Regions from separate parts of the Homo sapiens genome. Here region 1 is linked to region 2. Evidence: fine-mapped QTL for protein levels in blood plasma. A gene starts in region 2. The other region holds a variant in brackets. All regions are shown on one strand. Distances are from middle to middle. Region 1 overlaps CRACR2A (calcium release activated channel regulator 2A). Region 2 holds the start of CRACR2A (calcium release activated channel regulator 2A).

Evidence for each region. PIP is the posterior inclusion probability: the model's chance that the variant is causal. Protein levels are from antibody-based Olink assays in UK Biobank. Linkage for the fine-mapping came from a reference panel and not from the study's own genotypes, which makes the PIPs less certain.
Region 1: its variant is fine-mapped to the plasma level of the CRACR2A protein (UK Biobank, PIP above 0.99).

What each region holds. Positions count from the first base shown.
Region 1 is chr12:3,679,843-3,685,213 of GRCh38, forward strand. CRACR2A (calcium release activated channel regulator 2A) reads right to left here. Exons shown (of 20, transcript NM_001144958.2): 5 at 396-507. Among named protein-coding and RNA genes, the nearest start is that of CRACR2A, 71 kb to the right of the region's middle. The variant C/T (reference allele first, on the strand shown) is at 2,365.
Region 2 is chr12:3,750,644-3,756,014 of GRCh38, forward strand. It overlaps CRACR2A (calcium release activated channel regulator 2A), which reads right to left and starts at 2,466. Exons shown (of 20, transcript NM_001144958.2): 1 at 2,372-2,466. RefSeq lists a silencer at 2,201-2,700.

The DNA.
Region 1 (5,371 bases), 71 kb before region 2:
GACTTGGGTTGGAATGAGCCATCCAGTTGTCCCACCTTTTGGCCATTTTTCTATGAAGGCAGAAAAGGAGAGGCTGCAAATCTCATCACAGCTCCCCCTTTTATGCTATGGCTTCTGCAGAGCTTCCGTCCATCTCCCTTGCCAGTCCCAGTGGGAGGGAGCTTGGTAATGGCAGTGCAGTGGGCACTGAGCAAGCGGCAATGTAAGCAGTTGAGACGGGCATGTGAGGAGGCCCAAGCAATCTAGAGCCTGGAGACCTTGAGCTCCAGGTCCCTGAAAGGAGGGCAGGAAAGCTTTACTACCTGCCCCCCAGGTCTACAAGGGACAGGAATGCACCTTATACAGTGTTAGGTAGACCCATAACCCTGAGGTCCCCAGCACCCATCAGAACTTACTAAATCCAGTAGTGAACTCCTGTGGGGTCAGATAGCCATTGCCATCAGCATCCAGGGCATCAAACACATCCTCCAGTTCCTCCAGGCTGAGCGGTAGCTCCTTATGCAGCCTCTGAAAACAACCCAGAGTGTACTGGTTAACACTGACACTCACTGGTGGGGGAGGTGACCTGGGACTGCAGAGCCTTCTGCCAGAAAGTGTCTAGAGTTCGGCCCAGTCCTACAAAAGCCAGTAGAAAGCTTCTGCATCCAGACTGCTTCACCATCCCTCTCCTCCTTTGCATGTTAGCACAACTACCATTGATTGGGTGCCTACGAATGTACTAGGCCATTTGCTAGGTGATTTATAAATAAACAAATATGTAAATATGCATTTATTTATCTATCTGCATTTAATTCCCATGACAACACTCTGAGCTAGGCACTATTATCTCTGTTTTACAGATGAAGTTTGAGGTGAAATTACCTGCTCCAAAGTCACATGGCTAGTAATGACATAGCCAGGAGTCAAATCCAGCTCTGATTCCAAAGCCAGCACTCTCAACATCTGTAAAGGACTCAAACTGTACAGGACCAAATACTTTCAGGATAATACTCACACAGCATGGTGCTGTAAAGTTGAATGCAATCATGAATGTAAAGCATATAACAGTGCCTGCATACAGAAAGCATTCAATATAAAGTAGTAGGGAGGCAGAGAGAGAGAGAGACTCATGGCCCACTGAGGCCCCTCAAGGAAGTACGTGGCAGAGCCAGGCTTCAAACCCTGTCTTCCCTGCTCTCCCTAAGCCCCCTTTCCTCTCCCGTACCACGATGCGGGTGCGGGTCACTTACTTGAGGCCTCTCCTGCTGGAGGCCCCTGGTGTCCCATTGCCTCAGCACTGCATTTGTAAGTGTCTGTGGACACACATTTTGGTGCTTGAGCTCTGAGGGGATATGGGATAATCCCCCTTCCTACCTCTGAGTGACCCACACCCAGGCCCCGAGTCCAGGTTCCACTCCAGCTCCCTGCTGACTGGTAAGGAATTCCTAATAAGATCTCAACTGCCATTGGCTTAAGGTATCAAGGCCCCAAGAGTATTTGTGTGTTAAAGGGGGACTGGACAAGATAGTGTGAGGAGGTTATCGCTGGATTTGAGTCTAGAGCAGACTCAGACCTCATAAGGAGGGAAGGGCAGAGAACAATTAATAGGCCCAAGAGCAAAGCAGCTGAGCTGTTGCTGCTCCCTTCTGGCCTTCTGCCCGATGTGCAATGGCCCCAAGCCAAGGCTAACTTGCATAGATGAAGCAAGTGTACCCTCATACCCAAATAATCTAGGTCTCCAAATGAGAACTCCCCAGAGAGTTATATCTCAGCCGATCCTCTCCCTTCCTCCCAGTTACCTAAGCGGTAACCGTGCGAAATTGCCAGTGTGGAAGTGACTGACAGCTGAAAACAATGAATGCGGGGCTTTGTAAGAAGAAAGGTATATACCAACCTCAACAATAAAAAAGAGCTGGCAGGTGTGAAAGCCCATAACATAATTGGCAAGAATACTTGGCTTGATCCTATGGCAGTTCTAGCTGATAAGCCATAAAGCTTAATTTGGCAGGTACATGCATTAAGGGAGACTATGATGCATTATAAAGTGGGAAGACAGGCTGATGTGGAAGCCATTTAGAAGAATTGAATTAAATATGAATGGGCTTTTCAGAAAAGGAAGGAGAGTGAGAGAGAGTGTGCAAAGATTCTGGAAGTATATCTGCTTAGCATTCAGCAGAATCTCTGACTTATCAACAATCCATAAACCAGCTGTCTCAAAAGCTACAGTAGGAGAACACGGGTGAGGAGAGAGTCAATTTTGCAAGCAGGGATTTTATTAGCATCATTGGAAATAAGAAGCATCACACCTGAGGTAGGGTAAAAGCGCAAGCTCCTGTCACGCTCACATTCCAGTCCTTCCTTTGGATTATCCTTCCTCCTTCCCCA[C/T]CCTCAGACTAGGATTGCTGGATCTGATTCAAAATGTGGTCTCTCGCACTGGGCTGGAGCAAGAAATGAGCTGCAAGAAAATTCCAGAGATCAACGGGACCCTCAACATGCCTTTCACTCAAACACCCCACACACTTTTCTCATGTTAGCATGAACCAGGAGAGGCTAGTTCACAGCTCACCTTAGGCACCATTCCTGAATCCAGCAGCACTTCGAACCCCAAATCCCCCTGTTGTCTAATCCCAGTTCTTGTCTACATCTCAAGTCAGTTTCCTCCTCCCATTGTCAGCAAAGATGGGGAAAGCAATATTATAGGTTCCAAGTAATTCTTACTACTCAAGTGCTGGCAAGTCAGCGCTGAGTGCTTCTTCAGCCTTCTCTGCAACTGATTCTATACCTGATTCTTCACTACACCTGATTCTTTCACCTTGTTTTGTTGGCCCTCCTTGAAAAATCTTTTAGTCTTAATAACCATAATTATCTCTTATTTATCGCTCTGCTCAGGGCCTACAGAGCCACAGAAAACCAGCTTATTCTGGTATGGTCCCCTGGTACTGTTTACATTATTTTTATTATTTTTATTATTACTTTTTTTTTTTTTGAGACAGAGTCTCGCTCTGTCACCCAGCAGAGTAATGTGATCTCAGCTCACTGCAACCTCCGCCTCCCGGGTTCAAGTGATTCTCCTGCCACAGCCTCCTGGGTAGCTGGGACTACAAACGCCCACCACCACACCCAGTTAATTTTTGTATTTTTAGTAGAGACAGGGTTTCACCATCTTGGCCAGGCTGGTCTTGAACTCCTGACCTTGTGATCCACCTGCCTTGGCCTCGCCTCCCAAAGTGCTGGGATTACAGGCTTGAGCCACTGGACCTGGCCTACATTTTTAACTAAGTGAGATAAGCAGGGTGGAGGGGAGCAAGATTATTTATTCCACTGTGCAATAGGCCTGTGAGGCTCTGAGATTAGCCTAAAGTCACAGTGCAGACCACAGCTGGGAAAAGAACTGATTTTCCATCCAGGGCTTGAGCAACTGTCTAATAGTTCTCCAGGGCATTCATTCTGTTATTCCCTCACCTTCATTACCTCCCACACCTACCCACCTACCAGCACCACCAAAATCAGAACACAAAGTCTCTCTTGCCAGCACCAAGACCCAGCCTTCCAGAGATCCTGTGGCACGCACAGCTTTTCACACACCTGGAAGGGTGGGCCAGGGAAAAAGAGAGGCATGAGGAGGAACTCAGCTTCCTATTCGTACTGCCCATGGCCCTGGGAGCTCTTGAGAACTCCTTGGCTCCTTTAAACACCAGCCTCACTCTTTCTTCACTCTCAGCTCCTGCGTCACTTCCTCCGTAAGGCCTTTGCACCTCCCCAGGTTAGGTCAGGTTATACAAGCTCCCCAAACTACCTTTCTCTCATTCATAAATCTTTCCCAATTAGCATTTTATATACTGATAGATGTGACTCATTGATGAACGTCTGCTCCCTCAGTGCTCTGAGAACAGGGACCTCATTCGTTAGGCACTGTTGTGTCCCCAGGATCTAGCCCAATGCTGACAAACATGGACTATTTAGATAAGTGTTGAAGGAAGGCATAGATAAGCGCTTGACTAAGAGCAATGGCAGGAGACCCTGAGCTCCTATGTACAGAGTGCTGGTCTAGACCTCACACACTCCAGAACCTGACCAGCCCAACTGCTAATTCTCAGCAAGACTCATAGTGACTGGCAACCTTCCAGAACCTAGAACATGAGGCATCTACAGCAGCAGTACTGAGAGTTCATGCCCCAGAGCCACGGGAAAGTGATGTCTTTTGTTGCACTCCAGCCAGGCTCCTTTACCTTCCTAGTCACCAGCCCAGTAACATACCCCATGTAGCTTAAAGTGTATGGTTGCACAGCTTCAAACATGCTTCCATGACATTTTTATTGAGGAAAAAATCAGAGGATATCCATTTTTTATGTCCAGAATTACACTGTCCCTCCTTTTGGGGCAATCACAGCATTCTTTTCAGACCCCCATTCCAGCACCAACCACCCTCTTCCCTGTGGTACAGTTCAGCTATACCAAATCTCTCTAGGACGAGAGTGGGAGGTGGGAGGGCAGGATCAACCTTTATCCTGCTTTGCACCTTGATGTGCTTGGCTTGGGCTGATTACGTGGTATAGGCCACAGTTTCTCAACCTTGGCACTACCGACATTTTGGAATGGACAATTTTTGGTTAAGGGGGTAGTGGAGGGGAAGGCAGGGGAGGGACCATCCTGTGTATTACAGGATATGTAGCAGCATCCCTAGCCTTTGCCTGCTAAACGCCAGCAGCACTTCCCTCACCAGTCGTTTCAATAAAAAATGCCTCCATACATTGTGTAAGGAATATGGCTGTGCTTTGGTCAAAGATAGACCGAGGTAGAATGTTTACATCCTGCGTGAGTCAGCAAGTTTAGAGTGCAGGCGTATAATTCCACTTGTTATCACAGCCATGTAGCCATAACATGAGAAGGCCATCACTTGGCTGTACACCACTATTGTCTGTAAAAGATATAATTGTCCTGTTGACACTGTGCAGGCATGCTTGCGCTTGTGCCCAGAGAAAGAGAGAGAGTCAGAGCTGCCTGTCATTGCAGACAGACTGCGGGGAGCCAGGACACATGCCCAAAGAAAGAATTAAGCTGCTGACCCTGAAGGCAAGGGAGAGCGGGCCACGCAGCTGTGTGTGGGAGCCGCCAGATTAAGTAGCCAAGACAGGGCGGACAGTGTGAGAAAGCTGTTGATGAAAGCTGCTGCTGAATAAAACCATATTCACCTGCCTACGGCCCCCTGAGTATTGTTTCTGCTCATCCACTCATTCCCTCCGGACCTCAGCATGGGCTGGAACCTATCCCCAAGCATGACAATTGGTGTAGTTGTGAACATGACACATTGCCATATGTCCTCCAGGAGGCAAAATTGCCGCCACTCATGTAGATTGGACACAAAGAATAACAGCAGCTGGATACGAGTGGA
Region 2 (5,371 bases):
AAATAGACACTATTTTGTGTGGAAGAAAAGCAAGAGAGAGATGTGAACTCAGTGGGTGATTAGCCTGTCCCTGAGGAATCCCTCACTAGCTCTCCCCTAGCTTCTCTCAGCTGCATTGCCAGTACCCAGGCAGCCTGCAGATTCAACCCTCCCTCCCCACAACAGGTTCAGCAAACCATTGCAACAAGGAGCCCCAAGGCAGAATGGATGGCTACTGCGGCCACTGCCCCAGTGCTGGGGCCTGCCTTCTGCAGGCTCACCACAGCGTGACGCATCTCCAATCACCCCCCACACCTGGGGTTCCATCTCTGTCAGTGGCATCACCAGCCACTCTAACTCTGGAATCCAAATCGCCATCATCTTGGTCTCTTCTGCTCTGGTCCCTGACATTTATTCAGTTACCAGATTGCATCTACTCCATTGTTCTCTGGGTTAAAATCCCCATCCCACCACTTATTTTCTGTATGACCTTGGATAAACCACCTAACCTCTCTCTCAGTTTCCTCCTCTACAATATGGAACAATCATAGCAATCTCCTCATGAGGTTGTCAGGAGGATTAAATGAGATTAAACATGAAAATCTCCTACCACAGGCCCTGGCACATGGCAGATGACTTTTCCCCTACCCCCAAGCCTTTTAGCCCCTTCCTGTCCATTCCCACCAGCCCTGTTCAACCCCTCATGGTGACTGCAATGGGCTTCTTCCCAGGTTCTCTTCCCACAGCTTCCTCCACTGCAGTACATCCCATACCCAGGTGCAGATGACATGTTCTTCTGAACCCAGCTCCAGGAACAACACTTCCCTTCTTAGAAACCATCAAAATATCCCTAGGCTTAATAATGAAGTTTCTAGACTCGTAACACTCCAAGCCTCTGCCATCTCTCCCAGGCAGCACTCCTCACCGGATTGTCCACTACATTACTCCTTGCTCCTCAGGTACAACCCACCTTCACGGCTTTGCTCAGCCGTCCTTCCCCAAGATGCCCAGACCCAGCCTCCTATTCAAGGCCCGGCCTCAGTGCCACATCCAGGACGCCCTCTGCGAGTCACTCCTTCCAGAAGTAACCTCCCTCCTCCAAACTCCCTCTACACACTTTATAGTATAGAACCGAGAGGTGACAGGACCTCGGAAGCCGTACCTGAAGCCTCTCACTTATAGAACCGAGAGGTGACAGGACCTCGGAAGCCATACCTGAAGCCTCTCACTTATCACTTAAAAACTGCGCATGAAGTAGCTCTTATGGGCAAATACTAAACCATGAGGTTGTACATATTCATTTCACCTGAAAAGGGGCATGAACTCTGGACCCTTCAACAAAAATGCTGATTCCACGTGGAGCAAACTGCTCTGATTTCATATCCCTATGCCCACATCCTTGATAAAAAGACTCTTCGGTACATGCTGCTTTCTTCCAGAGACAAGGAACCCATCACCTCATGAGTTAGGTTCTTCCTCCTGACCCTCTGACCACCCTGGGGACTCCCACGGATTGGCTCTTTCTGTCCTCTTGAGTCACACAGAACGAATTCCTTTGAGACTCCTGGTGTCCTCCACAGAGCCAAACAGGGCAGGTTCCTAAGCACACTGTGTAAACAGATAAATGAACTCAGAGGGCTTTCCCACGTGGCAGGGTACATTCGCTGCATCCCGTGCATGCATGGGTGCACAGACACACACTCGCACACACACGGACACACACACACACACACGGACACACACACACAGACACACACACACACGGACACACACACACACGGACAGAGTCAGCACAACGCCTCTGAGCCACACAGCCAGGCCAGCACACGCGGGGGCCAGGGCGGAAGCCAAGCCCCAGCAGCCGCCCACTTCCTGACCTCCTTCCTTTGCTCTGGGAGGTTCTCTCTCTGTGTCTTTCTGACTGTCTGTCTCGGTTCTTTGTTTCTCGGCATGGCAACAGTTGTGGATGCTGCCTGCGTGGCCAGGGCTCCTAGTAGCACTGACCTGCAAGGTAGGAGTTTTGGTTCTTAGACTTGAGACCTTGGGCAAGTCACTTTACCATTCTGAGCCTCAGTTTCCTCATCTGTGAAATGAAGAGGCTGGATGAGGCTGGAGGGTTCCTAAGGTCCTTTCCTGACCAAAACCCTAGTGCTTCTCGGCTCTCCTCCAGTCCCGTTACCGAGTGACAGGGAGGGGAGCAAGGGCCAGGCCAGGCCTGGGGGTGGCAGGGGAGCCAGCTGTTCCCCCCCAAGGGCACACAGCCTCCATCCAGGCCCTCTGCGAGTTCCATGTGCGGCAGACACGCGCTCACACTTCGCAGCCGGAGGAGCAGGCAGGAAGCGCCGCCCCCCGGCCGCCCCGGCCGCCCACCCTCAACCTTCCTCCACGTTACCTTGGGCGTGTAGGCTTCCCGTGGACCTGCCCGCGCCGCCCGCTCGGCTCTCAGCTGTCAAGCAGCCGCCTGCTCCGCCCGACTCTTTCCGCTCCGAGCCGCGCGGGCTGGACCAGCCCCTCAGCGGAGCTGAACGGGAAGCGGCGCCCCCTGGACGCCCTCCGGGACGTGCGCGCGCCAAGCGGTGGGGTCCGGGCCTGCAGGCGCGACCTGAGGCCGCCAGGGAGGCTGGGTGGCGAGGGCGGGGCGGCTGCCGACTTAGCCGGCCTGACTGGTCGGGCTTCCGGGGTCCCGCTGCTCCCTAGGCCCCTTGCCCCGATTCAGGCTCCCAAGGTGGGGCATCAGTCCGGCCCTCGCTGGCTCACTGGAGAGGTGGTGTCTGGGAGTGCACCCCCGAAAACCCGGCAGCAGCCCGGCGTCACTCCGGCTGTTACCTCTGGGAGCAGAAACTAAAGGGGATCCTTATTCTTTATACTTTTCTGACTCTTCTATATATTCTACTGTGGGCATGAATCGTTAAAAACAAAACAAAACACCAAAAACCCAATACGTATTTGTTAATAAAGCACTGAGTAAATCTTCAAAGGCCTCCCGAGGTGCTCCGGCTGCAGGATAACCCCTCAGCTTAGCGCACAAGGCAAGGCCCACCCTGCCCTCTCCGGCCACAACCTAATTTTCCAGCCTCACCCTCTCTCCCTCACACACACACAACACTTTCGCTCTGGACACACTAGCTGTTGCCAAACACCAGCTGTTCTTCATGGCTGCTGGGAGTTCTTCTTTTTGCCTGGAACACCCTCCCCTTTCATCTCTGCCTGTTGAAATCCTACTCATCCATCCAGGCCCCTCTGAAATGTCACCTTTTTGGAGAACCCTTCCCCAGACACTGCCCCTGCAGAGTGCCCCAGTTCTTTCCTGGCAAGCCCATCTTTCTGGTACTGGTTTATGTAGTAGCATCCCCCTCTCACACGCGCTAAGTCCTATTCCAAGGTGGAGAGAAACAAATTAGCACTTACTGAGCAGCTGTTATAAATTACTCTGTGGAGTCCTTTCTTCTCCTTGCAGCCCAGCCAGCCACTAGCCCACAACCTCCCTCCACCCTGCCAGAGTTTCAGAAGGCTGTCAGGGGCTCTGAGGCCTGCCCTCTGGTGTGTCCCTACTGCGTGCCTTGGCTTTTCTGGCTCTGTCCTGGGTATGCTTCCCTGTGTCAACTCCCAAGGTCTGCAAGCTGGTGGCTTGACCTTCTCTCAGCCTTATGTGAGGAAAGAAGGACATTTCATTATCAGAATCTGAGAAGTGGAAGGGGCCTCAGAGATTATCCAGTGTAAAGCCTGCCCACCCATTTTACAGAGCAGAAAACTGTGACCAGAGAGATAAGGTCAGAGGCATCGGAGGTACCTACCATTGTTATTGTTGTTTTTAATAGTGTTAATACTTGCACGTTTAGATCGCCTTTCACTTCTAAATCAATGCGTTGTCATTCATTTGCCCCTTACAGTCTCAGAGGTATTACAGTGGTTAGTGCACAGACTCTGGAGGCCAAAGCCCTGGGTTTGAATCTCAGTGCTCCAACTTGCCAGCTACGTCCTTGGCAAGTTACTGGAACTTTCTCCATCAGTACAATGTGGATAGTAACAGCTCCTGCATCATGGGGTGTTCTATGAATCGAAATAAATGTGTATCTTTAAAGGGCTTAGAATAGTAGTAGGTTCATTAAAAATGCCAAATGTATTTGCTCTTATCAAATTTTTGTTATTGTTAATTGTATCACTTCACAGTTGGAATAACAGAGGCTCAGAAAGGCTGAGACTCATCCAAAAAATTGCTGCTTTGAGGATGGTTTCTCACCAAACTCCATGCAGTCATCTTTGTCTCTGATGCCATTCTGCTTCCTGTTCCCTTGTGTCTGAGTCTAACCACCTATTTAATAGGGAAGAAAAGCAACTGTCCTTTAGCCCACCTCAGAACACCTAGACATTTCATGTTGCAAACATTAACCACATCTTCTGGCTTCTATGGGGATGTCTCTAATTTGCTGGCGTTTTCTTTAACAGAACACCACGCCTCATGGTGCCCTTCAGAATCACAGAGCCATCACATTAACTGCTGCAAGTTCAGCTTGTACATTCGTGCCTCTTTTACTCTTGGCCCGTGGCAGAAAAGCGACAGGGAAAAGATGGTTCTTCCAATGTATGGATGTAGGAAACTGAGGCACAGTTGATACTCACTGATTGGCCCCAGGCTATGGAGCTAGCCTGGACCATGGGAAGGATGAGGATCTCCACCTCCTCTTTCCCCATGATTACATGATTCAGTGTTGCAGGAGAAACCCAAACTCGTTTATTCAATGAGGATTTATTGAGCTCTCTCTAGGTGACGAATAAGACCGAGGCAAGGCTGGCTTCCTGGGCATATGACCTATGAAGTCACATAGGCCAGAGGTCCCCAACCTTTTTGGAACCAGGAACCTGTTTCGTGGAAGACAATTTTTCCATGGACCAGGGGTGGGAGTGGGGGGTGGGAATGGTTTCAGGATAAAACTGTTCCACCTCAGATCATCAGGCATTAGTTAGATTCTCATAAGGAGTGTGCAAACTAGATCCCTCACATGCACAGTTCTCAATAGGGTTCACGGACCAGTACCCCATTACCGGTTTGTGGCCTGGGGTTGGGGACCCCTGACATAGGCCACTCACTTAGAAGGGCTTCATACAGAGTTTAATGCTGTCCTGCCACCTTCTTGAAATCTTAACAATTTTTGAACAAGGGGCCATATAAGTTGTATTTTACACTGGACCATTCAAGTTGTACAGCTGGTCTGGACCTAGGCTCTTCCCTAGGAGCTCTGTTTCACAGGGAATCAGCCAGGGAGTTGACAACTGCAGTTCAGTACGATGGGGGTTGTGACAGAAGCAGGGTAGCCGTGAAAGAAGAACAGGACCTTGGCCAGTATTCAGCTCACTTGGGTCATCCTCCCCAGCTGTGCAACCTGCCCAGCTG